Linked DNA regions of Homo sapiens. The protein of the gene in region 1 interacts with the protein of each later gene in a pairwise test. Each region holds a gene or a part of one and is shown on either strand. Other genes may lie near its edges.

Region 1 (7,795 bases):
ATGGGAATGATAACAATACTGCTGATTTCATAAAGCTGCTGTGAGGAGTAAATAAGATAATGCATGTAAAGTGCCTAGCCTGGGCTCTTTGCTTATTCAATACATAGTTGTTATTATTATTATTATTATTGCCTACTCATTGGAGGCTTTTCTTGATGTTCATACAATTGAGTTCATCAGGACTCAATTGTAAATGCTTTGATGGGGTGAGGGTGGGGAACATAATGATTGGAGACAGCAAATGGGGCTTCAATACCCTAGGGATGGCCTTGATAATTAATTACAGTGTGGCTCTAACTACACCAAATCAGTTGTCCCTAGCAGGGGTTCATGTATGTGCTACCCCGGGACACAGGCAGGCAGCCCAGAAGAGGCCACACCCTTGCTCTTAGACTGAGAAGAGCTGGCTGAGACCTCTCTACCACTCTCCTCCAAGGGCTGGTATGTTACAGCCCAAAAGCCTTCTATTGCTGGCCATGGTCTAGGCCAGACCTCGGACTGTCACACTGGACTTTTCTCTCTCTCGCAAAGGACGAAGCCCTTGGCAGTCATCTCCAAGCATGGCTTTGGCATGTATTCCTTGAACAACTTCAGGCTAGCCAGAGTGCGAGGCCAAATCTTCTCTTATCTAGATCACGTGCTAGCCGCCAGGCTCTGCCATCTTCCCACAGACATGCTGGTCTCTCGCCTGCCAGCATGGTCCTGAGATTGCAGCAGCTTTACAAGAAGCAGGGTCACCATCTCCCCACTCCCACACGCCACTCTGAGCTCCTTTGGAATCTGCCCTCAGAGGACTCCTCCATGAGCAGTGTCACAAGGCTTTGTCCCCTTGAAAATATCATCTTCCCCAAAAAAGCCTGTATTAAGCACTTATCTGCACGTGGTGTTGTGCTGAGCTCTGTTTCTAGTGAGTCACACTGTCACAGGCTCTGCCCTCTGGGAAAAAGTCTGGAATCTTTGCCAGAGACTGTAAAGTCCAGTTTGGCTAAGTACTGGGGTGTTAGAAGAGAAGGAATAGTTTAAAAATTCCTTCAAGGCCACTGGGTGGTGACTCTTCCACTCGTGTTCATCTGTCATCCCTCACTTTCTAGCTTCTTCCTCCCTCCTTCTTTAGATTCCCAAACACTTCATTTTTTCCATCTAAATTTCAGATGGACTTATTTCCCACCTTTTAAATCCAGGGAACTCTTTGGCTCACTGTAGCACTTGATTTTAAGCAAATGGGAGCATTAGGTTTTTGAGGTTTAAGAGCCCATCTGTAAAGATATTTCTACTTTGGATTACAAAGTCATGTTTTAGAAATTCTAGAATCTTATAGCCTTACATTAAAGAAGCTAGACACACTAGAGGAAGTCTTAACCAAGCAAATGTCAACAGCCCCAGGAAAGGACAGAGACAGATACCGCCTTTGACTTTAAAAGGAAATGTAGCACTTCCCTTCCAAAATGCAAGGGGCAAAAAAGATCACGATTTCAAAATAATGTTCTATCTTCCTACCCTGGGGCTCTCCCTTATCAGTACTGAGCTGTCCATCTTCCTGACATCTAGTGAGTTGGCCTAGTTTCTGAAGCCATTTTTAGAACACGTTCATTTTAATAATCAAGGAGTCAGGAGTCTCGCACAGTTTCAAGTGTTTCATCAGTTTCATCAGTTACTCAGCCCTTCTCTCCACGTCACTCAGAGGAGGGGCCTTGTGGTCACTTTGGCAGTTTGACCAGCAAGAAGGAGGCTTACTGTCACCCCTGACTCTGTCTAAGGTCCAACCATACGCTCAAGGAAAGGCCAGCTGTGAGCCTAGAGGAGTTGTCTTCAGTGATCCCAGTGCCTTTATAGAGGCCCCCCTCTGCTCCCCATGACACAAGAAGTTGCCCTTGTTATGTCCTCCCTCCCGCCATCCCCTGCACATTGACATATTCCTGTCATATCAGGTTTCTACCTTTTCTGAATTAAAGGTGAGCACAAATGGTCAGACAAGAATATTTGCACTTAGCCTATTACATAAACTCATGGAGGGGGAGGATTGAACATTCCCCTGGCCCTCGGTTAAGTCACTGCATTTTTACAAAGACCTGAAGACAATACCAACAGAATGAATAAGGAGCAGTTCATGTATTAGATGCCCCAGACAAGTAAAGAAGATATCATTCCAGGGGGGCTGTTACAAAAAAACAAGTTTTGTCTATTACGAAGGGCTGGACCCTGCCTCAATTTCTTTAAAAGGGCTCATGGCTTTCTGCCAGAACCACCCCACTCCACCGCCATCTCAACTCAGCCCTAATTTTTTAACTATAAACTGCAATTTAAAATAAAGCAGCTTTTTCATTCTCCATGGATTTCCATCATTTCCTTCCCTCTAACGCCTTGAGGCTTAGCCAAAGTGGGGTTTTGCAGCCTATCGGCACCCAAGCAGTAGAAGAGACATCAGGATGTGTAAAGTGCTTTGGGATCCATCCCAGAGACTAGGACCCACAGATGCCTCCTGCCTCCCTCTGCCCACAGGTGCCGCTGCTCGGGGTAGGGGTCATGGATGGGAATCCAACATGCTTTTCCTGGCAGGACCTGTCAGGCAGGGGCTAAGGGTAAGAATGCAACCCCATTCTCAACCGCCCTAAAAAACTGAGTGAAGTGGGGACGGGGCCCCGCTGAGAGAGGTGAAAAGGGGTGAGGAGGAGCCGAGGGTCCTCGGCTCAGCAAGAGGCGAAACCGCCACGCGCTGGACGCTGGACGACGACAACCGCTAGAGCTATGCCTCGGGCGAGGTCCCCTCCCGGGTCCCACCCTTCCTGGACCTGACCCCCTGGATCACCTTGATCTTCTCGCCCTCGATTTCCACGGTCTTCTCCCTGAAGTCCACGCCGATGGTGGCTTCAGTCTTGTCTGGGAAGGTACCCCCGCAGAAGCGGAAGGTCAGGCAGGTCTTGCCCACGTTGGAGTCCCCAATCACGATTATTTTGAAGATGCGAATCTGCACGTACTGGTCCAGCGACGAGTCGAGCTCCAGGGACGCCAGGCCAGCGGCCGAGGCGGGCTGCAGGCTCCCATGGCCCAGGATGGGCTGCGCCATCTCCCCCGGACCGAACCGGGGCCCCAACCCCCCTTGAGGGCTCCACACAAAGAGAACGTCCACGTTCGTGCGCTCGAGGCGAGCGAGCTCTGTGCGTGTGTGTGTGCGCGCGTGTGTGTGTGTCCGCCCGTGTGTGCGTGCGCCGGCACCGTGTGCGCGCGCGCGCGTGAAGGGGGTGCCTCTCACTCCGGGCCCCCCTCCTCCTCCTCCAGCGCACCCTCCTTGCAGCTCGGAGGCACCAACACAAAAGCCAGGGAGAGGAGGAGAGAGGGAGGAGAGTGGACGAGCCGCGAGCCTTCTGCCTGTGTGCGCCCTCGGACCGGATGCTCTGGCGAAGGACCCTACCGCGCTGCTCCAGCCGCCGCCGCGCCTCGGCCCACACCCTCCCCTGCCTGCATTCCCGGGACGGACCCGAGGGAAGAAGCCTCAGGAGGAAAGAGACGGGGTGGGGACAGCGGCACACGCCACCCCGGGATAGACTTCTTTCTCCTTGCCCCCGTTTATGTTATAGGTTTCGGGCTCCCCACCCCCACTGGCTCGAGCGCACGGGGTCAGCGGGCAGGGAGCACAGCTGGGGAGGACAAAGAGCTGCACCTTAAGACATCACTGGATCACTTCGGCCTCCCTGGAGCAACGCAACTCTGCGGGGATGGGGTGGGGGCGGAGGCACCTCTTTCACCTCGGGAGCAGCGGGCAGCTGAGCCGCGCCTTCCCGGTCCCCGCTACCCCGTCCCCTCTACCCCCACCCTCTACCCGACCCGCGCCTTGGGATAAAGGGATGCTCTGTCTTAATGAGTGAGCAGGTGCACTCGCGGGCCCCAGGCAGCCTGGGAGGCCGCTGCCAAGACACGCAGTGGGTTGTCCGGGGCCTGTACAGCTGAGAGGAGGGAGCCAGCGGGCACGCGTGTGCGTGTGTAGGGGGTGTAACTGTTTCTGTTACAGACTTGCCAGATGTAGGGGGGCGCGTACCAGGCGCCAACATCCCCTTATCACACCACGCGCACCCATCCTCTGAATGTTCAGGAGAGCGGCTCCTATTGGCTGCCGCAGTCGGTTGTGTTTGGCTGGCCAATGGGGAAGGCCCGCCGCGGGAGAGGGCCACACAGAGGCTAGGAGAAGGGGGGGAAGCTAGTGGTGGCAGTTCCAGCAAAAGGGGACTTTGTTTACGGGGCTAGCCATTACTGGCCCAGGTGGAGGATCTTGGGACAATGGCATAAGCTCCACAGTGCCTTCCATTCCCAAGCCCTCCATATAACCATAAGTCCCTCCAGAACGCTGGAGTTTCAGAGGGAGTTGGGAATCCCTAGGAGGGTTCACCTCCCCCTGCAGCTGAATGTAGAACAAAGTGGTTGGGTCTAATTTGCCAGAAGCCTAGATTATGCTTGGAAGATGATAAATGAACACAACCTCCTTACAGTATTAGGGGGCTGCTGCCCAAAGCTTACTAATCATCACACACATCTTGGTCAAGACCAGTATTCCTTCTCCCTAAAGTCATTCGCGGGTTCAGAATTTGTTTGAAATCGACTTTACTGGGGGTACAATTTACATACGATAAAGTGCACCCATTTGTTTCTTTTAAGACTTTACCTCTCCCCCTACATATTTCATAAGCTAAGGTAACACTGACACATGTCACTAGCACTGACTCGTGAGTTATTGCTAATGCCATCAAGGTCAGGGATTCAAACAGCACAGTTGAGCTGCCATCTTATTTGGGAGGTTGAGCTGCAGGAAGAGACAAACATGACCAAATCCATTTCTGCTGAGAGAAAAACAATTCAGTGCATCAGTGATATACCTGAAAGCAAATTGGAATGTGACTACTCAAGGACGTCCAAGTTACTCAGAATGGCATCTTCCAGTTAATAAGTTTATTAGCTGAGCTAGCAGATATATTTACAGCTAACCCTTTTATCATATATGTGGGTCGCCCATTTCTAAAACCCTACATTATACTACTCAGCATTAAAACTACCCAGATAAGGATTTCCTCTTAGTTGGCTAATCCAAAATCATCCTTATGAATACCAATTTTCATTGTATTATGTATCAATCATCATTGTACAGTATTTTTGGTTTTGATTAGTCTGATGCCTAGTTTGCTGGATCGTTCCCCTCTGTATTGGAAGTTAATGCCCCTGATGATCTTTATCTACAGAATAGCTTTAAGGTGGAGAGGGGTAACTATTAATTAGGTACATCCTGTACACAAAGTAGAAAGGGGCTTTGCCCTTTGCCAATTCACAGCTAGAATTAATGCTAACTTCCTGAGAGATATTAAAAAAACATATGTACATAATAAGATTATTTCAATGTAAGCTTCTAGCAAAAACTTGTCACTGAGTCTACTTTTGTAAGGAAGAAACTTTGATTTCTGAAAATATGATATCTCAAAATGGGCTTCTTGCCCTAATAAAAGGTGTCTGTTACTTCTGTGGGGTGAGACTTTGGGGGATTTCCACTTATATTTTTTGGAATTAATTCAATGAGTATATATTGCTTTTGAAAAAAGATAAAAATATAATTTTTAATTAAAAGGACAGGAAAACTACCTTATTGTACCTATTGTAAAAAAATTAAATGTACTGTACAATGCCCTTTGTGTTAATTGTGCATTATTAAATTACTTTCAAATACATGCAGTTGTTTTCATAGGTACCTGATTATCATGATTTTGACAGTGTTTTCCAGTCTCTTTTGCCATCAGATATAATTAACTTTGTATTTAATCAATCCATGATTATTGGTTTTTACAAATATCAATAAAAATCAATGCAAGGCTGTTAAAATGTTAAGTAAATATAAATAATTTTTACCTTACTTTGGAATTGATACTTTTTTTTTTTTTTTTTGAGATGGAGTCTCGCTCTGTCACCCGGGCTGGAGTGCAGTGACACAATCTCGGCTCACTGCAAGCTCCGCCTCCCAGGTTCACGCCATTCTCCTGCCTCAGCCTCCCAAGTAGCTGGGACTACAGGCGCCCGCCACCACGCCTGGCTAATTTTTTTGTATTTTTAGTAGAGACGGGGTTTCACTGTGTTAGCCAGGCTGGTCTCGATCTCCGGACCTCGTGATCCGCCCGCCTTGGCCTCCCAAAGTGCTGAGATTACAGGCATGAGCCACCGTGCCCGGCCTGGAATTGATACTTTCAATATTTATCCCCTGGCCTAAAGTGATCCACCCTCCTCGGCCTCCCAAAGTGCTGGGATTACAGGCATGAGCCACAGAGCCTGACCATATTTTCAATATTTATCCAAAGGAGCTCTAGATAAAATGTCACCCATTGCCTGCACTTCTGAACACTGATCTACTCTGCTTAATGGGTAAGGGAGCCCTGGATCATCTTCACCACATAATGACTACTTCCTAGGCCTGGCACAGTGGCTCACACGTGTAATCCCAACACTTTGAGAGGCTGAGGCAGCAGGATTGCTTGAGCCCAGGAGTTCAAGACCAGCCTGGGCAACGTAATGAGACTGTCTCTTAAAGAAAACCAAAAAACAAAACTACTTCCTGGGTTAAACTTCACAGAAGGGTGTCTTTGTAGGCCGGGCGAGGTGGCTCATGCCTGTAATCCAAGCACTTTGGGAGGCCGAGGCGGGCGATCACCTGAGATCAGGAGTTCAAGACCAGCCTGGACAACATTGTGGAACCCCGTCTCTACTAAAAATAGAAAAATTAGCAGGGCGCGGTGGCATCTGCCTGTAATCCCAGCTACTCGGGAGGCTGAGGCAGGAGAATTGCTTGAACCTGGGAGGCAGAAGTTGCAGTGAGCCGAGATACTGCCACTGCACTCCAGCCTGGGTGACAAAGGGAGACTCCGTCTCAAGAAAAAAAAAAAAAAAAAAAGAGTATCTTTGTAATTTCTTTCTTTTTCTTTTTTGAAATAGGGTCTCGCTCTGTCATCCAGGCTGGAGTGCACGGGAGCAATCACTGCTCACTGCAGTCTCGATCTCCTAGGCTCAAGTGATCCTCCCATCTCAGCCTCCTGAGTAGCTGGAACCACAGGCACATACCACCACGCCTGGCTAATTTAAAAAAAAAATGGTAGAGATGATGTCTCATTATGTGCTCAGGCTGGTCTGGAACTCCTGGCCTCAAGCAATCTTCCCACTCGTCCTCCCAAAGTACTGGCATTACAGGCATGAGCCACTGCACCCGGCCCTGTAATTTCATTCTCTATCCCCATTCCACCAAAAAAAAAAAAAAAGTAACTTCATTACCTCCAAAGTTAGGGCCCAACTCTTGCCAGTTCAAATCTGGCCCCCCACCATACTTGCCTGTCTTTATCACTACTTCTTTATTTTTTTCTTTTTGGAGACAGAGTCTTGCTCCATCATCCAGGCTGGAGTGCAGTGGCACAATCTTGGCTCACTGCAGCCTCCACCTGGCAGGTTCAAGCGAGTCTCCTGCCTCAGTCTCCCTAGTAGCTGGGATTACAGGCGCATGCCATGGCGCCCGGCTAATTTTTGGATTTTTTGTAGAGACGGGGTTTCACCATGTTGGCCAGACTGGTCTTAAACTCCTGACCTAAAGTGATTCACCCGCCTAGGCCTCCCAAAGTGCTGGGATTACAGGCATGAGCCACGGAGCCTGACCACATCAATACTTCTTAGTATGTACTCTCTATCATTGTCCCCCGAAAATGTGCTGGGTTTTGGTTTTTTAAAACAGTTCCAAGCCTTTTCATTTAACAAACAGCATGGTGCTTCCTCTAAGACACTTTAC
Region 2 (7,000 bases), on another chromosome or scaffold:
ATATACACGAACATATGTAGAAATATCTTCTGGATGGAGTTATTGTAGAAATGTGAGCCATCCCTGAAGATGATAACAGCAGATATTGTACTCCACTCTCAGTACATATTGAATTATTGTTACATATAAAATGTTGGTTTTATATTTAATTTAAAAATATTCATTGCATAATAACTGTGCTTTTACTTATAATAACTGTTCACAGTTTTGGCCTCTAGTTCATACGATGAGTATCTATGTAGAGGGCTATGTAAGAGTTGTACACTAGAGTGACTATTATAGAGTAAAAGAAGCTTGACTGGCCAGACACGGTGGCTTAATGCCTGTAATCCCAGCATATGCCTGTGGTCCCAGCTGTTCGAGAGGCTGAAGTGGGAGGATCACCTTAGCCTGAGGAGGTCGAGGCTTCAGTGAACTCTGAGTGTAGCACTGTACTCCAGCCTGGACAACAGAGAGAGACCCTTTCTCAAAAAAAAAAAAAAAAGATTCAAAGATTTACCTAAACTTTGTTTTAATAAAAAGTACTTCAAAACAAGAAGGAAGCCTTGACATCAAAATTTGAGAAATCCTGTGTGATGTTATTAGCATACTCATTTCTTTTTCTTTAGAGACTTAAAGCAATTTCTTAAAATGTATAAATACTAGCGAAAGATACTCTTTTTGTACATAAACAACAGAGAAGTACACAGAGCAAAACATGGTTTTTATTCATTCTCTTCTATTAACCTCTCTAAAGGAAATTGGGCACCTGTAATCCCAGCACTTTGGGAGGCTGAGGTGGGTGGGTCACTTTGAGGTCAGGAGTTCAAGACCAACCTGGCCAGCATGGTGAAAACCCATCTCTACTAAAAATACAAAAATTAGCCAGGCTGGTGGTGTTCGCCTGTAATCCCAGCTACTCAGGAGGCTGAGGCAGGAGAATTGTTTGAACCTGGGAGGCGGAGGTTGCAGTGAGCTGAGATCGTGCCACTGCATTCCAGCCCAGGGTGACAGAGTGAGACTCTGTCTCAAAAGAAAGAAAATGGGAGAATTAGATATTCTGTTATCCCTTTTCTGTTTTTTTTTTCTTTAACTGTAATTGTAATCATGCTATTAGCATTATTCTGTGACTTCCTTCTTTAAAAAAAAAAGTGGCTGGGTGCGATGGCTCATGTCTGTAATCTCAGGACTTTGGGAGGCTGAGACTGACGGATCACTTGAGGTCAGGAGTTCGAGATCAGCCTGGCCAGCATAGTGAAACCCCATCTCTACTAAAAATACAAAAATTAGCTGGGTGTGGTGCTGCATGCCTGTAGTCCCAGCTACTTGGGAGGCTGACGCAGGAGAATTGTTTGAACCTGGGAGGCAGAGGGTGCAGTGAGCTGAGATCATGCCACTGCACTCCAGTCTGGGAGACACAGAGTGAGACTCTGTCTCAAAAAAAAAAAAAAAAAAAAAAGATATGGCTTGGAGATCTTTCCATTTACATAGACATCTGTATCAGAATTAATAGCTGTGCGATATTTTATGGTATGTATATGGCATAATTTAACCATGCTCCTCTTTTTTTTTTTGAGATGGGGGTCTCACTCTGGAGTGAGACTTGATTTTCAAAAAATCAGGAGTGCATCTTGATTTCAGAAAAAATCAGGAGTGCATCTTGATTTTCCCCAAGACTGCTGAAATGGAGTTTGCCAAATTATGGCCAAAATAGTTAAATTTTAAACTATTTTTAGACTGTATTTCCTTTACTTCACAACTTATGTTGAACCATGTCCTAGCAGTTATAGGCTTATCTGGATGAATCATTATAAAGCTACTTTGTGCGTGTGCTTTTCTCCCCCTGGGAAAAATTGCCTATCTTGGGTGTCCTTGGGTAGTGTATATGATAGGCACCCTGTATTTGCAGGAGATCTGGTCAGTAATAACAAAAATGTATGGCAATTTCATGGTTTTATATTGACCAAATCTCAGAATAAAATACAAGGAAAAGGAAATTCACAATTTTTCATATTTAAAATTAAAATAACTTCTTAGGCTGGGCGTGGTGGTTCATGCCTGTAATCCCAGCCAGCACTTTGGGAGGCCAAGATAGGAGGAACGCTTGAGGCCAGGAATTCAAGACCAGCCTGGTCAACATAGCAAAATGCCATCTCTACTTACTAAAAAAAAAAAAGGCATTATAAAAAATAAAATAACTTTTTATTTGTGCTTGGTTTGTTTAATAAACTTATAAAGATCAATCAGCTAGGGCCACCAGCCTTTATTTTGGTATTGGTAGAGAATGAGTGCAGTCATTTTTCACTTTAATTACCTTACTGCATATTTGATATGAAAGAATGGTCACTGTGTCTTTTTATCATGTGGAAAAAAATAGCAGGATGGGCAACAGGATCCTACTGGCACAGGCTCCAGATCCACTGGGATATGTAGTGGATAAAAGAGGAAAGATCTCTGAATAATTGTATGTTAAGTTAGAAATGTTGAAACTAAATATTTAAAAATAAGTTACTACAGTTTTTTATGTTGACATTGTGTGCATTATGTGTTCTTTTTTTCAGTAAGAAAATCATTTTTGAGTTACAACAAAACCATCTGGGGCCCTTTGGAACTGGTGGAGAAGCTGTACCCCGAAGCAGAGGAAATAGGAGCTAGTGTCCGGGATCTACCTGGTCTGAAGTAAGGAGGCCTATTACTTGTTCATCCCTAGCCACAGAAGTGTATTCATTGTTCCTCCAAAGTACCTCACACTCTAGCTTATTGTCTTCTCTTAGTCTTAAGTCCCCTTCTTCTAATCCTCTTATAATAAAATTATGTTCATTCTTTATGGCTCAACTCAAATCCCATTTCCTTTATGAAGTTTTTCTTAGCCTCTTCGATCAAAATTAACCACTCACCATTCTGCCTTGTATTGTAGGAAATTGAAAGTCCTTTTAAGATAGGATATATCAGTTATGCATCTTTGTTTTCTGAGTGTTAAATTAGTTTGCCTGTAGTAGAAAGTCAGTAAGTATTGAGGAAAGACTGATTTAGGCTGAATCCAGGGCACAGGCTCAGGATATTCCAGTTCTCAGATAAGCCAGTTGTATACCCTAGGACTGGTGTACATTTCTTTGCTTCCTCTGAAAATTGGTACCTATAATGTCACCAGCCTGTTTCATCAGACAAATGTATGTAAAATGTCTTAAAAGTTGGAGTATGTTAGCTAAGAATACTTTCATGAGTATTTAAAATTTTTTGTAGGTGTAAAGTGTTAAGACTCAGTTCTTAAATTCTTTTTTTCTTTGAGACGGAGTCTCGCTCTGTCGCCCAGGCTGGAGTGCAGTGGCACGATCTCGGCTCACTGCAAGCTCCACCTCCCGGGTTCACCCCATTCTCCTGCCTCAGCCTCCCGAGTAGCTGGGACTACAGGCGCCCGCCACCACGCCCGGCTAATTTTTTTGTATTTTTAGTAGAGATCGGGTTTCACCATGTTAGCTAGAATGGTCTCGATCTCCTGACCTCGTGATCCGCCTGCCTCAGCCTCCTAAAGTGCTGGGATTACAGGCGTGAGCCACCGCGCCAAGCCTATATTCTTTTTTTTTTTAGTTTTCTTTTTAATTTTTATTTTCTTTATTTTTTTTGAGATGGAGTCTTGCTGTGTTGCCCAGGCTGGAGTGTAGTGGTGCGATTTCAGCTCACTGCAACCTCCGCCTCATGGGTTCAAGCAACTTTCCTGCCTCAGCCTCCCGAGTAGCTGGGATTACAGGTGCATGCCACCATGCCTGGCTGATTTTTTGTATTTTTAGTAGAGACGGGGTTTCACCATGTTAGCCAGGATGGTCTTGATCTCCTGACCTTGTGATCCGCCCGCCTTGGCCTCCCAAAGTGCTGGGATTACAGGCGTGAGCCACCGTGCCTGACCAGTTCTTATATTCTTTAGAGTGTAATTAAAATGTAAGTGTTCTCTTTTGTTTGTCTTTGTTTATTTTATTTTATTTTGAGACGGACAGTCTCACCCTGTTGCCCAGACTGGAGTGCAGTGGTGCAATCTCGGCTCACTGCAACCTCTGCCTCCCAGGTTCAAGTGATTCTCGTGCCTCAGCCTCCCAAGTAGCTGGGATTACAGGCATGTGCCACCATCCATACCTGGCTAATTTTCGTATTTTTAGTAGAGATGGGGGTTTTGCCATATTGACCAGGCTGGTCTTGAACTCCTGTCCTCAATAGTGATGGAATTGGCCCAGCGCAGTGGCTCAGGCCTGTAATCCCAGCACTTTGGGAGGCCGAGGTGGGCGGATCACCTGAGGTTGGGAGTTCGAGACCAGCCTGACCAAAATGGAGAAAGCCTGTCTTTACTAAAAATACAAAATTAGCCGGTGTGGTGGCACATGCCTGTAATCCCAGCTACTTGGGAGGCTGAGGCAGGAGAATTGCTTGAACCCGGGAGGCAGAGGTTGCAGTGAGCTGAGATCACGCCATTGCACTCAAGCCTGGGCAATAAGAGAGAAACTCTGTCTCAAAAAAAGTGCTGGTATTACAGGCGTGAGCCACAGCGCCCAGCCTCCCTTTAGTTTATCTTAATTCTTGTTAATGAGATAACTTTTTTTGCATTAAGCATTTTCTGTAAGGTTAATCGTTTGTTTTCTCATAGTTTTACAACTTAGGGTTTATATATGTTGTGGGGAATATGGTAGTGTTTTGCTGTTATTTTGTTGTTGAATGTTCAAATGTTCAAATGTTTGTAAATTGGAATTTATTGAGTGATAAAAGTAAGTGGCTACTGTTGAGCACTGTGTTAGAGTAATAAGGTACCTGTTTTACATGAATTATCTCCTTTAGTGCTTAAATCAGTCTTACAGGTAGAGGTTATTATTATAATTGTATAGATGTGAAAAATAAATGCCAGATAAATTATAGTTAAAAAGTGGCAGAGGCAGGATTTAAACCCAGTTTTTAGAGTTAAATATAAAGTGGCTGGGTGTGGTGGCTCACGCCTATAATCCCAGAACTTTGGAGGCTGAGATGGGTGGATTGCCTGAGCCCAAGAGTTCGAGACCAGCCTGGGCAACATGGCGAAACCACATGTCTACTAAAAATACAAAAAAATTAGCTGGGTGTGGTGGTGCACGCCTATAGTCCCAGCTACTCGGGAGGCTGAGGCAGGATAATTGCTTGAACCCAGGAGGCAGAAGTTGCAGTGAGCCAAGGTCGTATCACTACACTCCAGCCTGGGTGACAGAGTGAGACTTTGTCTCCCCCACCAAAAAAAATTGGAAAAAAAAAAAAATCAAATGATATTTGTTCACAATTGATATTTTTGGTATATCAGGTGTAAAGATTTTTAACAAAGAGGAAAAACAGAATTTCAACTCTCAAAAACAAAAATGTAAGATTTGATTCATTTTAATATGAAAATATGTATTCATATTTTGTTAAAAAGCCAGACTCTACAATAGTAAAACCTGTTTTCTGATGGTGTTCATTAAAATGCTAAGCTATAAGAAATGCGTTAATTATTAGAAGTGAAGATCAAGTCTCTTCCTGTACTATCTGCCAAAATGTTCTCTGCATAAGAAAATATAAAAGTGTGAATGATACCACTCTCTTTAAAAAAAAAAAGTGGTATAAAAGTTGCTTTTTAAAAAAATTATTATTATATTTTATGGAGACTGAGTCTGTCTCTGTTGCCCAGGCTGGAGTGCAGTGGCGGGATCTTGGCTCGTTGCAACCTCCACCTCCTGGGTTCAAGCGATTCTCCTGCCTCCGCCTCTCGAGTAGCTGGGATTACGGGCTCATGCCACTGTGCCTGGCTAATTTTTGTATTTTTAGTGGAGACGGGGTTTCACCATGTTGGCCAGGCTGGTCATGAACTCCTGACCTCAAGTGATCCACCCGCCTTGGCCTCCCAAAGTGCTGGGATTACAGGCGTGAGCCACCACGCCAGGCCACTTTTATTTTTAATAACAGATAGAACTTGGGTAAGAGAGGTATGAGATTTAATTTCTTAAATGCAACCAAATTAAAGAAACATTTGAAAACCAGTAAGCAGCACAGTGATTTCTCTTTAATTACTAGCCTGGCACCCTCTTAGCTTTGTTATGATTTTTAAAATTCAGATATAATGTTACCTATGTTTTTGAAGGCATTATGGTGCCTTATTGTAGAATTTTTTTTTTTTTTTTTTTTTTTTGAGAACAAATCTTACCTTGTTGCCCAGGCTGGAGTGCGATGGTGCAATCTTGCCTGACTGTACCCTCCGCCTCCCGGGTTCCAGTGATTCTCCTGCCTCAGCCTCCTGAATAGCTGGGATTACAGACACCCACCACCAAGCCCAGCTATTTTTTGTGTTTTTAGTAGAGACGGGGTTTCACCATGTTGGCTAGGCTTCTTTCGAACTCCTGACCTTGTGATCCGCTCGCCTCGGCCTCCCAAAGTGCTGGGATTACAGGTGTAAGCCACTGGGCCCGGCCTGGTGAAGTTTTAATATTTATTTTTAGAGGGCTAAGCTCATTCAGACTAAATATTTCTTTTTTTTTTCTGAGACAGGGTCTCACTCTATCACCCAGGCTTGAGTACAGTGATGCAATCACTGTTCACTGCAGCCTCTGCCTACTGGGCTTAAGCAACCTCCTGTCTCAGCCTCCTGAGTAGCTGGGAATACAGGCACATGCCACCACACCTGGCATTTTGATTTTTTTTCACTTTTTTAATTTTTTTTATTTTTAAATTTAATTAATTTATTTTTTTTATATAGAGACAGGGTCTCCCTATGTTGTCCAGGCTGTTCTCTAACTCCTGGATTCAAGTGATCCTCCCACCTTGACCTCTCAAAGTGTAGGGATGACAGGTGTCAGCCACCGTGCCCACCTAAATATTTCTTATAGAAGTATTCTCACCAGAGTCCTGGGCTGCATAACATTTCATTAAATGATGGTGGTTCCAAAAGATTATAATACTGTATTTTGACTTTACCATTTCCATGTTTAGCTGTGTTTAGATACACAAATAGTTAACAATTGGTTAATAATTGCCTACAGCA
Region 3 (7,426 bases), on another chromosome or scaffold:
AGTGCTGTCTCAGCTAGAGACTAGGGTCCCCTGGTCCTTGTCTCCTCCCTCTGAGCAGAAGTCTCCAGTCCTAATGCTGCCATCCTAATCTGCAAAAACCTTGGAATGTGACTCACTCACATCCCATGCTATTTTGGAAAACTTCTGAACTTGATAGTGAGATTGGGGGACTACAATGAAATGAAATGGGCAAGACACTGGGACTGCATCTCCTCTGGGCTAGTACCTCTACATGTTTACATTTTCTCAGAAAGACTGGCCCAGGGCCCTGTCTAGACAAAAAGCTCTGGAATGAATTAGCTGTGAATTACCTGGGCAGCAACCTTAGACTACTGCACATAAGCCCCAGAGGCACTGATCCTTGGACAGACTCAGGGGCTCTGTGTGGCCCCTAGAAAGAAATCAGGCAGGCTTAGGATTTTGGGTAATTAGGGTGACTAGTAGCAGTTCAAGAACTCACTGCTCCACTTACGTCTCCACTTTCTAACTCCATGCACCCCAAGACACTGATCATTTTGTTGAAAACACATACGGGCCAGGGATGGGGTCAAGTGGCAGGATGGGGATAGCTGGCTGGAATCCCTCTACAGAAGCATGGGCTTCCCGCTAGGCACTCTGTACTCACCAGGGAGGCTGCCGACTGGTGTGTGGGTGGTGTGGAGGAATCCGGAGTGGGTCCACCTCTCTGGCGGTAGCAGGGGGGAACTCCCGGTGGGGACTGCTTACATTAGCCTTTTCCCACTGCTCATGGATAGGTGTGATGATTCCAGACACAATACGAGACCGAAGCTCCTCACTGTTCTTGTAGGTCCTGCAGGAAGCAGATGAAGAGTCAACTGCTTGCAGTTGGCTAGGAACCCTGGAAGTGGTATTCTGGCTGCAACGACGGCGGCGGCGGCGGCCCTGATAGCTCCTGGCATTGCGCTTGGCCTGTTTATAAGTGGGGGAACAGGCCGCCTGCTGGACCTGGGTGAGGGGGGCAACAGCCCCACGCTGTCTCTGAGATTTGGGCCCAAGCTTCTTAGGCATCTGAGTTGCCCCTCCTTGTTTACCACCCCATTAGAAAGAGGTGAGGGTGTAGGGGCACAGGGCCTGGATTGGCTACTCCTCTGTCCTCACCCGCCTCACCCCTCCCTCAGCTTCATTGTGTGTTCATCACGTGTCATGGGAAGGGTCATGGAAGGCAAAGGCTCCATGGGGAGGATGAACCAGGTTCCTGTTCCAGGCAGGCAGAGCTCTGGGGGTTCAAGGTCCAGTTCTGTCACTAACTCAGGGGTCCTCGGAAGGCTGCCCCTACCACCTGTCCCATCCTGCCTGGGCCTCTTTTTCTATGCCTGTGAGAGACAAGTGACGTGAGCCACAGCTGAGGTGTGGAGGCAGGCTGAGGTAACAGAGTGGGCAGGACTCCAGGCTTCCTAAAACACTGGTATTTTAAAATGAACCACATCCTGGCCCATAAAGCAAAGCTCACAAATGTAAAATAACTGAAATCATATAAAGTATGTTCTCCAACCATATGGAATCATAACAGAAATCAAAACAAAAAGTTAACTCTCTAAATACATGAAAATTAAGCAACATACTTCTAGAAAATCCTTGGATCAAAGTCACAAAAAAGAAATATATAGCACTGAATTAAAATGAAAATAAAAACATACGAAAATATGTGGGATATAACTAAAGGATTGCTGAGAAGAAACCTCATAGCACTAAATGCTTACATCAAAATAGAGGAAGGAATTCAAATCAATAACCAAAATTCTGACCTAAAGAACCTAGAAAAAGAAGAGCAAATTAACTCAAAGCAAGCAGAAGTAATAAAGGTAAGAACAGAAGTCAATAAAAAAGAAAAACAAGAGAGAAAATGAAACAAAGTCAATTCTTCAAAAAAAAAGAATAAAACTGACCAACTCCTGGCGAGACTGACAAATACAAAGAGAGGACACAGTCACCAATAACAAGAACGAAACAGGAGATATTACAATAGATCTGTAGCCACTGAAAGGATAATAAGAGAATACTAAGAACAACTTAATCCAACAACTCAGAATAGACCAATTCTTAAAAACCATAAACTACAACTCAGCCAAAATGAAATAGATAATCTGAATAGTTCCATTAAAGAAACTGAATTACACTTAACATTCTAAAAAAATAAAATAAAAAAACAAAAACCAAAAATCTCCAGGCTCAGATGATTTCAGGAAGAATTCTACCAAACATTCAAAGAAGAATTAACACCAATTTTACAGTCACTTCTAGAAAATATATGAGGAGGGAATACGTTCCAATCCATTTCATGAGACCAGTATTACTCTGGTATCAAAACCAGGCAAAGACTACACCAAAAAAAAAAAAAAAATATATATATATATACACATATATAGACTAGTATATCCTATGAACTTACACACAAAAAAAATCCTCAACAAAATATGAGCAAATTGAATTTAAAAATGTATAAAAAGAACTATATGCCATGACCAAGTATGATTTGTTCTAGGCATGCAAGACTGGTTAATAGTCACAAATCAATCAACGTAATCTACCATATCAATAAGCTATGGAAGAAAAATCATATGATCATATCAATTGATACAGAAAAAAGCTTTTGACAAAATCCAACATGATAAATCCATTCAAGATTAAAAACTCTCAACAAACTAAGAATAAAGGGGAACTTCTTTAACCTGATAAAGAACATTTACAAAAAACCTACCCCTAACAATATACTTTACTGTGAAAGACTGAATGCTTTGCTCCTAAGATTGGGAACGAGGAAAGCATATTCTTTCTCATCACTCTTATTTAACATAATATTGGACATCCTGACCACTGCAATAAGGCAAGAAAAACAAAAGGCATTCATATTAGCAAGTAAGGAATAAAACTGTCCCTATTTGCAAATGACATGATAGTCTACCCTGAAATTCCCAAGGAATCTACCAAAAAAAAAAAAAAACAAAAAAACCCTAAACACCTTGAATTCAGCAAGGTGACAGGATAGAAGAGTTCAACACAGGAAAATCAACTACATTTCTACACACTAACAATGAACATTTGAAAACCAAAACAAAGGACAGAATATGCCATTCATAATCATCTCCCTTTCTGCTTTAAACAAATAACAAGCTATGTACAGGATCTATATGTTGAAAATTACAAATGATACTGATGGAAATCAAATAAAACCTAAATATTAATAAATGGAGAGATAAGATATATCATGTTCATAGCAAGAATGTCAATTCTCCCCAAACTAATCTATAGGTTTAATGCAACTCCTATCAAAATCCTAGCAAGGTTTTTCATAGATATACACAAGCTTACTCTAAAGTTTATATGAAAAGGCACAGAGGCCAGGTGCGGTGGCTCACGTCTGTAATCCCAGCACTTTGGGAGGCTAAGATGGGTGGGTCACGAGGTCAGGAGATCGAGACCATCCTGGCTAACATGGTAAAACCCCGTCTCTACTAAAAATACAAAAAATTAGCCAGGCATGGTGGCACGCATCTGTAGTCCCAGCTACTCAGAAGGTTGAGGCAGGAGAATCACTTGAACCCCGGAGGCAGAGGTTGAAGTGAGCCAAGATCACACCACTGCACTCCAGCCTGAGCCTTTTTGAGACACAGTGAGACTCTGTCTCAAACAAAGAAAAAAAAAAAGAAAGAAAAAAGAAAAAAAAGAAAAGGCACAGAACCTAGAATAGCTACAACTACCTTGACGAAGAAAAAGTGGGAGGAATTATTCTACTCAATATTAAGGCCTACAATAATCAATACTGATAGAGTAATATTGACAGAGGAAGAGACATAGAGATCAATGGAAAAGAACAAGGGATCCAGAGATAGATCCACAGATGTACAGACAACTGATTTTTGACAAAGTTTCAAAAGTAATTCAATGAAGGAATAACAAATGATGTTGGGGCCATTGGACATCCATGGGTAAAAAATGAGCTGCTTGCCTGCCCAAGCTGGGTGGGAGGGTAAATTCAAGTCTTCTTTCCTTTTAATCAGATCAGAGGGAGGCCTCTGATCTCCCTAGGCATGTGTAAAATTCAGGCCTGATTAAAAAACCACCAGGTCCTGAAGGAGAAGTTCTCACACAATTTCTAAGCCTTGAAAGAACAACTGCCATTTTGGTTGTGGCAAAAGACAGCCTACCATCTCATCCGACACAGAAAGGGTACAGCAGAATGGAACACAATAGGTTTATATTTCTTAGCAAATCACAGTTTGCTCACTGAGGAGCACAAATTGCTGGAAGAGGCAAGACATGCCACAATGACCTAATAAAGAGGGCTACATGGAGGAAGCTATGGCTGAAAGGCATAGGAGGGAGACAGGGCCTCTGATCAGGAGGCAGAGCCATACCTCAGCTTTCACCGCCCATTTCCACGGAGATGACTCCTGGTGATCACATTTTTTTCCCCTTTGTGTATTTTACTAAGAGCTGGACTAAGCGCTAAGCACTCTATGTGCTGACATCTCATTCCATTCTCAGAAAAACCCTGAGGTAGTACTATTGTGTCCCTCATTTCACAGTAATCAAAAAACAAAACAAAACACAACACATATCCCCTCCCTCACACACAAACCCCTCAAACAAATGTACTTAAAAAACAAATAGAGACAGGATCACAATTCTCTTTCAGTATTGCTGAACAGACGGAATGCTCTAATGAGCATGAATGGCCAGTATAATTCCTAGGTTCTTCCACAGGTTTTGTCAATTTCTCTCCCAGTGGAAGTCCAGAGTGAAGAAGTCAAGAGACCACACTCCAAATGTCCCTCCCTTACCCACTAAGAGGGGCCAGGGTGTCAGGGAGTGTGCAACACCCAGAGGCGCGGCATTCTGCCGGCCAGGCCTGGCTCACTTCCCCCTTTCCTCAGAGGCGCAGCATTCTGCCGGCCAGGCCTGGCTCACTTCCCCTTCCCTCCCTTTGTCTATTGCATGCAGAAGACACCCAAACCCTGCCCTCAAGGAGATCACAGGCAAGGAGGGAAGACCAACCCTAAGAAGGTAAATGTAAAATATCTGATGGATTAAATGCTTAAAAAATGATGTTTTGATCCAGGGCAACACAGCAAAGACCTCATCTCTACAAAAAATAAAAAACTGGCTGGGCATGGTGGCACATGCCTGTAGACCCAATTATTTGGGAGGCTCAGGTGGGAGGGTCACTTGAGCCCAGTAGGTTGAGGCTGCTTGGCCTGTTTATAAGTGAGCTGATTGTGCCACTGTACTCCAGCCTGCCTGGGCAACAGAGGGAAACCTGACTCCAAAAAAAACATTTTACTAAAATGTTTTGAAGCTGTAAGCCTGGGGGCCAGAGGAAGCTTCTCTAAGGAACTGACGTTTAAATCGGTAACCAAAAGATAAACAGGAGTTGGCTACGTGAGGTCAGGGAGAGCACTTTAGACAGAGGGAAGAGGTCTGAAGAGGGCAGAAGAATGACACTGTGGCTGAAGCACAGGGATGCGGGGAAGGCAGTACAAGGTGAGATTGAAGGGGTGAATGCTTTAAGGCCTCATCAAGGATTGTGCTCTTTATCCTAACAGCAATGAGTATTCCCTAAAGACTTTTAACTGTGGTAAAATATGCATAAAATTTACCATCTTAACCATTTTTAAGTGTTCAGTACTGTTAAGTACATTAACACTGTTGTGCAATCACCTACCATCCATCTCCAGATCTCTTTTCATTTTGCAAAACAAACTCTGTACCCATTAATCACTAACTCCCCTTCCTATTCCCCTCTTGCCCCAGTATCTGGCAACCACCATCCACTGTCTGTCTCTACAAATTTGACTAATCTAGGTACTTTTAATAGAATCACACAGAATTTGTCCTTTTGTGAATGGCTTATTTAATTTAGTATAATGTCTTCAAGGTTCATCCATGTTGTAGCACGGGCCAGAATTTCCTTCCTTTTTAAAGCCGAATAATATTCTACTGTATTTACATACCAAATTTTGTTCATCCATTCATCTTATCAATGGACAGCCAAGCTGCTTTCACCTTTTGGCTACTGTGAATAATGCTTCTACGAACATGGGTGTACAAATATCTTTTCAAGACCTACTTTCAATTCTTTTGGGTATATGCCCGGAAGTGGACATGCAGGATTATACGGTAATTTTTTGAAGAACTGTCATATTGTTTTCCATAGTGGCTGCACCATTTTACATTCCCAAGAGTGCACAAGAGTTCCAATTTCTCCACATCCTTGACAACGCTTGTTTATTTTCTGGTTATTCTGATACTACCCATCGTAATGGGTGTGAAGCAGCATCACTGAAGGGTTTTAAGCCAGAGTTGTTAACTATGATCTGATCTATGTCTGAAAGACTGGTCCAACTGCTGCGTGGGAAATACACTGGAGGGTGGCATGCAGGAGGGGAATATGTAAAAGACCTCCTCACACAGAAGCTGCATGGAAGAGGGGAGGAGAAATGAGGAGTGGCCAGAATGTGGAGGCCAGTGGTTTGAAAGTCTGTGAGGACTGGAATAGGTTCAAAGAGGGTATTGCTGATTAGATACTATTAAATGCAACAGGGTTTCTGGGCAGTTCTGAGGTTCGGTTAAGGTTTGATAACTGTGCATTTATAGTGATGCCAAGCTCACTCTAAAACTCTGAGGGTGGCTAGGTGCGGTAGCTCACACCTGTAATCCCATCACTTGAGGTCAGGAGTTCGACACCAGCCTGGCCAACAGCAAAACCCTGTCTCTATTAAAAACGCAAAAATTGGCTGGGTGCAGTGGCTCACGCCTGTAATCCCAGCACTTTGGGAGGCCAAGGCAGGTGGATCACGAGGTCAGGAGATCGAGACCATCCTGGCTAACATGGTGAAACCCCATCTCTACTAAAATACAAAAAAAAAAAATTGCCAGGCGTGGTGGTGGGCACCTGTAGTCCCAGCTACTCGGGAGGCTGAGGCAGGAGAATGGCGTGAACCCGGGAGGTAGAGCTTGCAGTGAGCCGAGATCGCGCCACTGCACTCCAGCCTGGGTGACAGAGCAAGACTCCGTCTCAAAAAACAAAACAAAAAAACGCAAAAATTAGCTGGGTGTGGTGGTGCACACCTGTAATCCCAGTTACTCGGGAAGCTGAGGCAGAAGAATTGCTTGAACAGTCACACTGTACTCCAGCCTGGGTGACAGAACTAGACTCCACCTCAAAAAAATAAAATAAAATAAAAAATAAAACCCTGAGGAGGTCAATGAAGATGGGGGGAAAATCCCTATAATGGAATAAAGCAGACATAAATCAGCTTAACTATATATAAAACAGATAATTTCATTATACTGATTTTAAAAACAAGCACTAATCTAAGTACCTTTGGAACACACTACTCTGCCTACATCTTTTGTGGAACATAGTTAAAAGACAAAAAGAACTGGAAATAAGTCATTTGGAACT
Region 4 (7,426 bases), on another chromosome or scaffold:
CTAACTTCTTGATAAGAAACAAGTTCTGAAAGATAAATGATTAAAAATTAGTAAACCAAATGTTATCCTTAAGATTTTTTTAGTTATAGCTTTTTTATCCTTTTTTCAAACCATGATGATATTTGACACTTAAAAAAATACCCAAAGTTGGCTATTGATAAAAATTATCCTTCAAAAGACTATATAGAAAAGACCAGATAAAATACATTCAAGGAAGAGAGGCAATGTGAAGTTGTCAAGCCTGAAGAACTTATCACAATACAATTATGGGAAATGTCTATTTTAGGCATAATTCTATGCTATCATTTAAACTGTAGCTGTTAAGTTTACATTGCGAATGAGAAAGATCACTATTATTTTGTCTCTATATTTATTTATGATAAAATGTCATTTTTCCATGAGATATCAGCTACAAGGAATCTTAGAGAAGGAGTGTGTGTGTGTGTATGTGTGTGTGTGTGTGTGTGTGTAAGAGTAATGATCTGGAAGTCTCAATGCACTCGAGTTACAGACTCACCGCAGTCTCAGGTCAAGGGGTTTACTACTGTCCTCAGCAGTGGTAGTTTGCAGGGACTCGCTTGTGCCAGAGCATTAGCTTTATGGTAACTAGAGTAAACTGAAATTTTAAATTCTGCATTGGATTTATAGAAGACATATAAGCATAGCATGTTACCATGTATGGCACACGTCAAAGTTTATGATTTCTGAAACCCATCTTTAATGGCAGTTTAAAAAGTGCTCTTTACTTAGGGCCGATCTTTTATTATGTTCCTATTTTAAGATTCTTTTTATTTTTTTTTGAGATGGAGTCTCGCTCTTGTCACCGAGGCTGGAGTGCAATTTGCGCGATCTCAGCTCACTGCAACCTCTGCCTCCTGGTTTCAAGCAGTTCTTCTGTCTCAGCCTCCCGAGTAGCTGGGACTACAGGCGTCCGCCATCACGCCCGGCTAATTTTTGTATTTTTAGTAGAGACGGGGTTTCACCACGTTGGCCAGCCTGGTCTCAAACTCCTGACCTCATGATCTGCCCGCCTCAGCCTCCCAAAGTGCTGGGATTACAGACGTGAGCCACTGCGCCGGGCTAAGATTAGGTCAGGAGACTCCGTCTCAAAAAAAAAAAAATAATAATAATAATAATAATAATAATCTTTAGGAACTGGATTAAGTGTGGAGAAGAGAATACTAGTTGGGAATTTGGATCTTCAAGTGGTTGAAGGAATGTTACATGGGTGGTATTAAGAGATTTGAGACAGAAATACATGACCATTTGAGGATATCTCAAACCCGAGTCTGTTGAAATTTCTTCCCTTACACAAAGACAAAATGAAGTTCAGGCAATACAGACAAGCCAGAACATAAAACGAGAGCAAATACTTTTCTGCCATTCAACAGTTCTTAGTGACTATCACCTCCATATTAATTGCATTTTCCCATTACTAAAAAGAAATCTTGTTTAAATCCACTGTTGGGATGGTTGTGATTTATAAAATAAAGCCACATCCTTTAATATGTTTATAAAAAAAGGAATAGTTAAGGTATCTCTGAGACCTGTCTTCGATATGTATATTTGTTTCACAAATGAATAGCCTTGTACAATCTTATGCATATGGATCTTACTGTTTTTACTGTCACCTTTTGCCTTCATAGATGTCATCTATATACGGAAAGCCTTTTGCTAATTTTAACAATATTTAATTGTAGTTCTTGTAAATGATTTCATTGAGGCTTTTACCACAGGGTTTTAAAAATATGGAAAATGAGCTGAAGCACAAAGAAACAATTTGCTTTACTTTTCTTACGAATATTTTCATATAGCAATTGCTTTTTGTTTTATTACACATTCTGCATATGTATGTAGCAGTTGTTTTACTCATTAAGATCTTTGAGGGAAGATTTGGAGGGGCAAGATTCTAAAGCAATGTCTTATAACCCACTTTTTTGAAGTTTATATGTAATAAGCCAATTATTTATGAGCTTTTTAAGAATAAAGGATGTCTCAAAAGGCTTAGTGCAGTTTTAGCTTTAATAACTTCAGAAGTAGAAATGCTGCACACACTTATTTAAGTTTAATTCTTTAAATGTCTTTTACCCTTAGTTTTGTGAAATTTTAAATTTTTAAAATTTTAAATGACTGAAAATTTAAATTTTAAATGACTGAAACAAAATTTAAACATTATTATTCAAAATTCACAAAACTAAGAGACAAATTTAAAGAATTAAACTTTCAAATGATGGTTTTAAATAAGTTTGTTTCTACTTCTGAACTTACTAAACTAAAGCTAAACTAAGTATTTTTGGAGACTCGGTGTTTAAGAAAGGATAAACGATACTTGCTGTATAGAATGGTTTTAATACTTGATATGGTCTCGGCCAGTCTGTAGGGTAAGAGGTGGACCTCTGAGGACTCTTCCAGCAATTTGACCTTGTGTCTAGGTTTCAAGTTGCAAAACTTAACAGCGTACGAATTCAAGAACGAAGTAACATGTCACCTGTAAAATACCCAGGATAGTGTAATTTGTGATGTGCAAAATAACCAAACATAGCTACTGTAAAAATACACACATTGTGAGGTGTTAGCATTGATGATCTTTGTTGAAATACATTGTGGTCTAAATTCTTTGACGAATAAGTAAGGAGTGAAGTTCATCTGCCAATGCGGGATTCAGACGACAAGCCTTAAAATCAAAAAGAGTCAGATATTTAGATACATTCTAATTGTTTGGGTCTTTCTTCTTTTTTTTTTTTTCTTTTTTGATTCATTTTTAAGAATAGTAAAGTACAGTGAATTTCAAGAAAATTTGTTAAGATACTTTCTATTCTGATGTCCTACTTTAACCTATGCAGAATAGATCAATACTCAAAATAACCATGTTATTCTCATTTGAAAGAGATATTTTATCAATGCCAAGAATAAAGGGAACTTAAGCACCAATGATAGCATTGTATGTTATGAATTATTAAAATAAGTAAAATGGAGAGCATTAACATTTGGCCTCAAAGTTGTTATGATCTCATTATGTGAATAACAGCATCTGTAAAATTTTATTTTAAAATATACAGCTAAAATAATTTTATTATGTCTAAATAGTGACAAGGTGCATAATTTCTAGAATGTCAACAATTTGGGATATAGAGCTCTCATCCAAACCCCATTCTATGCAGTAATTGTCCCTTCAGTACCCACGACAGTTGGTCACTAGGTATTTGCTTGGTTGCTTCCAGTAGCAGGAAGTTACACATTCTACATATGTAGAAGTTTTCACCTTCAGAGAAAACTTGTGTTTTTCTTTGTTTCCTGAACTGTTGTGTTAGAAAACTCTCCCTTATGGCCGGGCGCGGTAGCTCACACCTGTAATCCCAGCACTTTGGGAGGCCGAGGTGGATGGATCACGAGGTCAGGAGATCGAGACCATCCCGGCTAACACAGTGAAACTCCGTCTCTACTAAAAATACAAAAATTAGCCAGGCGTGGTGGTGGGCGCCTGTGGTGCCAGCTACTCGGGAGGCTGAGCCAGGAGAATGGCGTGAACCTGGGAGGCGGAGCTTGCAGAGAGCCGAGATTGCGCCACTGCACTCCAGCCTGGGCAACAGAGCCAGACTCCGTCTCAAAAAAAAGAAAACTTTCCCTTATTTTAGGCTGGTGTTTCTCTCCATGTACTCCAGAATCCTCGAAGGGTCCTAACAGAATACATAATGCTGGTTTCACAGAAACCTAACACTCTAGGAAGTGGGAGTCACCCTGCCTGACGGTGGCAGAGCCGAGAGCAGGCCTGGGTCTGTCGCCTCCAGGTCCCAGTTACCATCTTACTGCCTCACCTTCTGCCATAACACACTGCCTGCCATGGGCACTGATTCTGCTCCCTCCCAACCTGTTCCCTTCCTGCGGGACACTGCCTCTCCCTCCCAACCCGTTCCCTTCCTGCGGGACACTGCCGGTCCAGTGAACACCGCTGTCGGGACACCTTGTGTCCTTTTGCTCTGAGGGAGACCATTTCTGTTCCTCATATCATGCGTCATATGATATCATTCCAGACCCTTCACTGGTTTACTGCCTCTAAATGATCTCCATTTTATCAGTATCCCCATAATGTACAATGGCCTAAACTGAGTACAGTATTCTAGATGTGTATCCTAGAGTCCTAGAGTACAGTATCCTAGTTGCAGAGTAATGGGGCTATTTTCTCCCATCGTATGGAAAATCGTTCTCAGATTGGAATCTGTTTTGTTTTTTTTTTTTTTTTGAGATGGAGTCTCACTGTGTTGCCCAGGCTGGAGTGCAGCGGCACAGCCTCGGCTCACTGCAGCCTCCTCCTTGCAGGTTCAAGCGATTCTCATGCCTCAGCCTCCCGAGTAGCTGGGACTATGGACATGCGTTACCATGATGGGCTAATTTTTGTATTTCTAGTAGAGATGGGATTTTGCCATATTGGACAGGTTGGTCTCACACTCTTGGCCTCAGGTAATCCTCCCACCTCGGCCTCCCAAAGTGCTGGGATTACAGGCATGAGCCACGGTACCTGGACTTTTTTTGTTGTTCTAGTCAGGATGACTATATAGTATATTTCAAAATATATTTGACTAGAGTTTTCTAAGGATATTAAGGATAGGATAGAACCTGAAATCGGCTTGGTTTGGAAATTGATGTAATACAGAGAGCTTTTTTTTTTTTTTTTTTTTTGAGACAGAGTCCCAGGCTGGAGTGCAGTGGTGTGATCTCGGCTCACTGCAACCTCTGCTCCCAGGTTGAAGCAATTCTCCTGCCTCAGCCTCGCGAGTAGCTGGGTTTACAGGCACACATTGCCATGCCTGGCTAATTTTATTTTTCAGTAGAGACAGGATTATTTAGTATTTTTAGTAGAGACCCAGTTTCACCATGTTGGCCAGGCTGGTCTCGAACTCCTGACCTCAAGTGATCTGCCTGCCTCAGCCTCCCGAAGTGCTGGGATTACAGGCATGAACCACTGTGCCTGGCCAGTACAGAGAACATTTAAATGAAAAAAGTTAGACAACTGTTATTCATGCTAAGAATGGTGTAGAGGTAAATATCTTAAAGATCAGTTGCATTTGGCTGTGTGCTATGTGTCTATGTTTATGTTTTAATATGGCTTTGATGCTCTGGAAGTTTTAATTTTAAAGTAATTTAGGGTTCCCAAACTTACCTGACATTGGAATCCCACAGGGAACTTCAACAAATACGCTTCTGTCTCCTAGAGACCATGATTGAAATTTTCTGAAATAAGGCCTGAACTTTGGAATTTGTAAAAGATCCTCGGGTGATTTTAACATGCAGAGAAGCTTGGGAACCACTGCTGTAATATCAGAGTCAGCCAAGGGACTCAGAAGACTCCCCCACTCAGGCTGAACAATCTGTGTTCCACAAACACTGCTCTACCAAGTCTGCTATGATGTAATTCTGACTCGTGGATGTGATGGACCTAAGATGTGCACAGCTTTTTGGTTTTTCTTTTTTTAAAAAAAATCTAAACTTAAGAGTTAGTACTCATAATGATCTCCCTTACACCCCCTCCACTACCACACCCCTTGCTTTTTAGTATTTACTTTGAGATGTGAAACGCATTTGGGATCTAAATAAATTGATCACATGGATTAAAATATGAAAGACTTATTTTAACTGATTACCTCAAACTCAAAAATATCCCGCCTAAGTGGGGTAGATGTCACGCTCAAAAAAACTTTAAACTCTGTACTAGAATAAAAAACTTCATTACTGTACTAGAATGAACGTATACATTCACACTTGTTCTAGATGAAAGAAAAACTGTTCAGCTTTAAGGTCTTGGTGCTGGGCCTTAGGCTGCAGATAGTAGCAGAATGAAAGAGTAATTTGCATCAAAATAGGACTTTTAATCATTGGAGCTAAATTATGCTAATAAGATTCTGACAGAATTGTCTGCAAACAATCTGCATGTCTGACAGCTTCTCTGTAGACAGAGGTTATCTGCACAGTAATTGAGTAGAAAAAACACTAATCCGTAAAACTATTCAAGTTGCAGCTAAAAGCCTGGCAGTTTCTCTTTGGGTGAATTTATATTTTGTTCTAAAGCTTACTTTAGAATAATAGTGTTTAGCGGTTGTTTCATCCCTGGTGATGCCCAAGCCAAGCTGAAGACACCTTGCGTGGTAGAAGGATGCCATTGCCATGCCTCTGCCGATGAACTCCGGGAGACAGTCTGTGACCTGGGCGATCATGGGGATGTCGTGAACCTCATCATAGTCAGCGATCCTGAGAGGATGTAGAGTTGTGAAATGGAAAAGACATCAGTTATGGTAAGTGTTTGTAAAACGATGCGCCTAGAGACTGTCCTTGTGCCTGAAGTGATTTCTCTCTACTGCTTTGAGAACTAAGTTGTTTGCTGTGTGGGGAAGGGTCCATGTAGGCACCTCATACCAGGAGAAGATGAGCTTCCCAGAGTGGTGACTTCACATGTCTCTGTAATTATGCTCAGCAGGCTCAATAACCACTGGAAAACAAAGGTATGTTTCTTTTTTCTTCTAATATTACTACTGGAAGTTTAATGTCACTTTGTGGATTTAAACTGAACGGAGAAGAAAGCATTTTCTATTTCTTTGGATCACGTATGGAAACATCAACCTTCAGTTTGGACGTTAGCCACATAGGACCAGAAAACCCTTTCACTAGCACATCTTCTTTAAAAATAGACAATTGGCTGGGCGCGGTGGCTCACGCCTGTAATCCCAGCACTTTGGGAGGCCAAGGCAGGCGGATCACGAGGTTAGGAGATTGAGACCATCCTGGCTAACATGGTGAAACCCCGTCTCTACTAAAAAAGATACAAAAAATTAGCTGGGCATGGTAGCGGGTGCCTGTAGTCCCAGCTACTCGGGAGGCTGAGGCAGGAGAATGGCGTGAACCCGGAAGGCAGAGCTTGCAGTGAGCCGAGATCGCACCACTGCACTCCAGCCTGGGCAACAGAGCGAGACTCCGTCTAAAAAAAAAAAAAAAAAAAAAAAGGATAATGGAAAGAAGTCATCCTTTATACCCAGACACAAATATGTACAATTGTGTGAGAATGTGATCCAGTCAACTCCATGTTAACCTCAATGTCATAGGGAGTAGGGATGTGGAAAATAAGGGAAAGCGCCGAAGATTTTAAAGAATGATTTAAAGTCTTAGTTCTAACTAAGATGGGCACTTGCTTTGAGACACTGGCAATCACTCCTGTAAGTGGTCTGCTGCCTGGAGCCCGAGACGCTGGGGAAGCGGGGTAGAAGCAGCCCCTCCTTCCCTTCATCCTCTCTTGTAGATGACTGCCCTGAGCTAGGGCTCGGAGAGGGGGGAGACCTGGCGCTGTGGGAAGGGTGTGATTGGGAAACACCAGCACACGCAGAGTCTGATGGCCACTCTAGAGTACACCCAGGTCTGTCTCCCCGACCCACTGCTTTTA

Evidence for each region.
Region 2: the proteins of RAB33A (region 1) and RUFY2 interact in binary tests that used the Homo sapiens proteins (3 or more experiments, as listed by UniProt).
Region 3: the proteins of RAB33A (region 1) and PSMF1 interact in binary tests that used the Homo sapiens proteins (3 or more experiments, as listed by UniProt).
Region 4: the proteins of RAB33A (region 1) and LRP2BP interact in binary tests that used the Homo sapiens proteins (3 or more experiments, as listed by UniProt).

The regions. Positions count from the first base shown.
Region 1 is NC_000023.11:130,167,332-130,175,126, reverse strand, and holds the start of RAB33A (ras-related protein Rab-33A), read right to left. Parts: upstream 3,166-7,795; 5' UTR 3,065-3,165; coding exon 2,807-3,064; intron 1-2,806.
Region 2 is NC_000010.11:68,397,278-68,404,277, reverse strand, and holds part of RUFY2 (RUN and FYVE domain-containing protein 2), read left to right. Parts: intron 1-2,540; coding exon 2,541-2,658; intron 2,659-7,000.
Region 3 is NC_000020.11:1,128,506-1,135,931, reverse strand, and holds part of PSMF1 (proteasome inhibitor PI31 subunit), read right to left. Parts: intron 812-7,426; coding exon 626-811; intron 1-625. UniProt on the Homo sapiens protein: Plays an important role in control of proteasome function. Inhibits the hydrolysis of protein and peptide substrates by the 20S proteasome. Also inhibits the activation of the proteasome by the proteasome regulatory proteins PA700 and PA28.
Region 4 is NC_000004.12:185,364,572-185,371,997, forward strand, and holds part of LRP2BP (LRP2-binding protein), read right to left. Parts: intron 6,495-7,426; exon of another isoform or gene 6,387-6,494; intron 6,288-6,386; exon of another isoform or gene 6,244-6,287; coding exon 6,069-6,243; exon of another isoform or gene 6,064-6,068; intron 5,615-6,063; exon of another isoform or gene 5,224-5,614; coding exon of another isoform or gene 5,179-5,223; intron 2,675-5,178; coding exon 2,609-2,674; 3' UTR 1-2,608. UniProt on the Homo sapiens protein: May act as an adapter that regulates LRP2 function.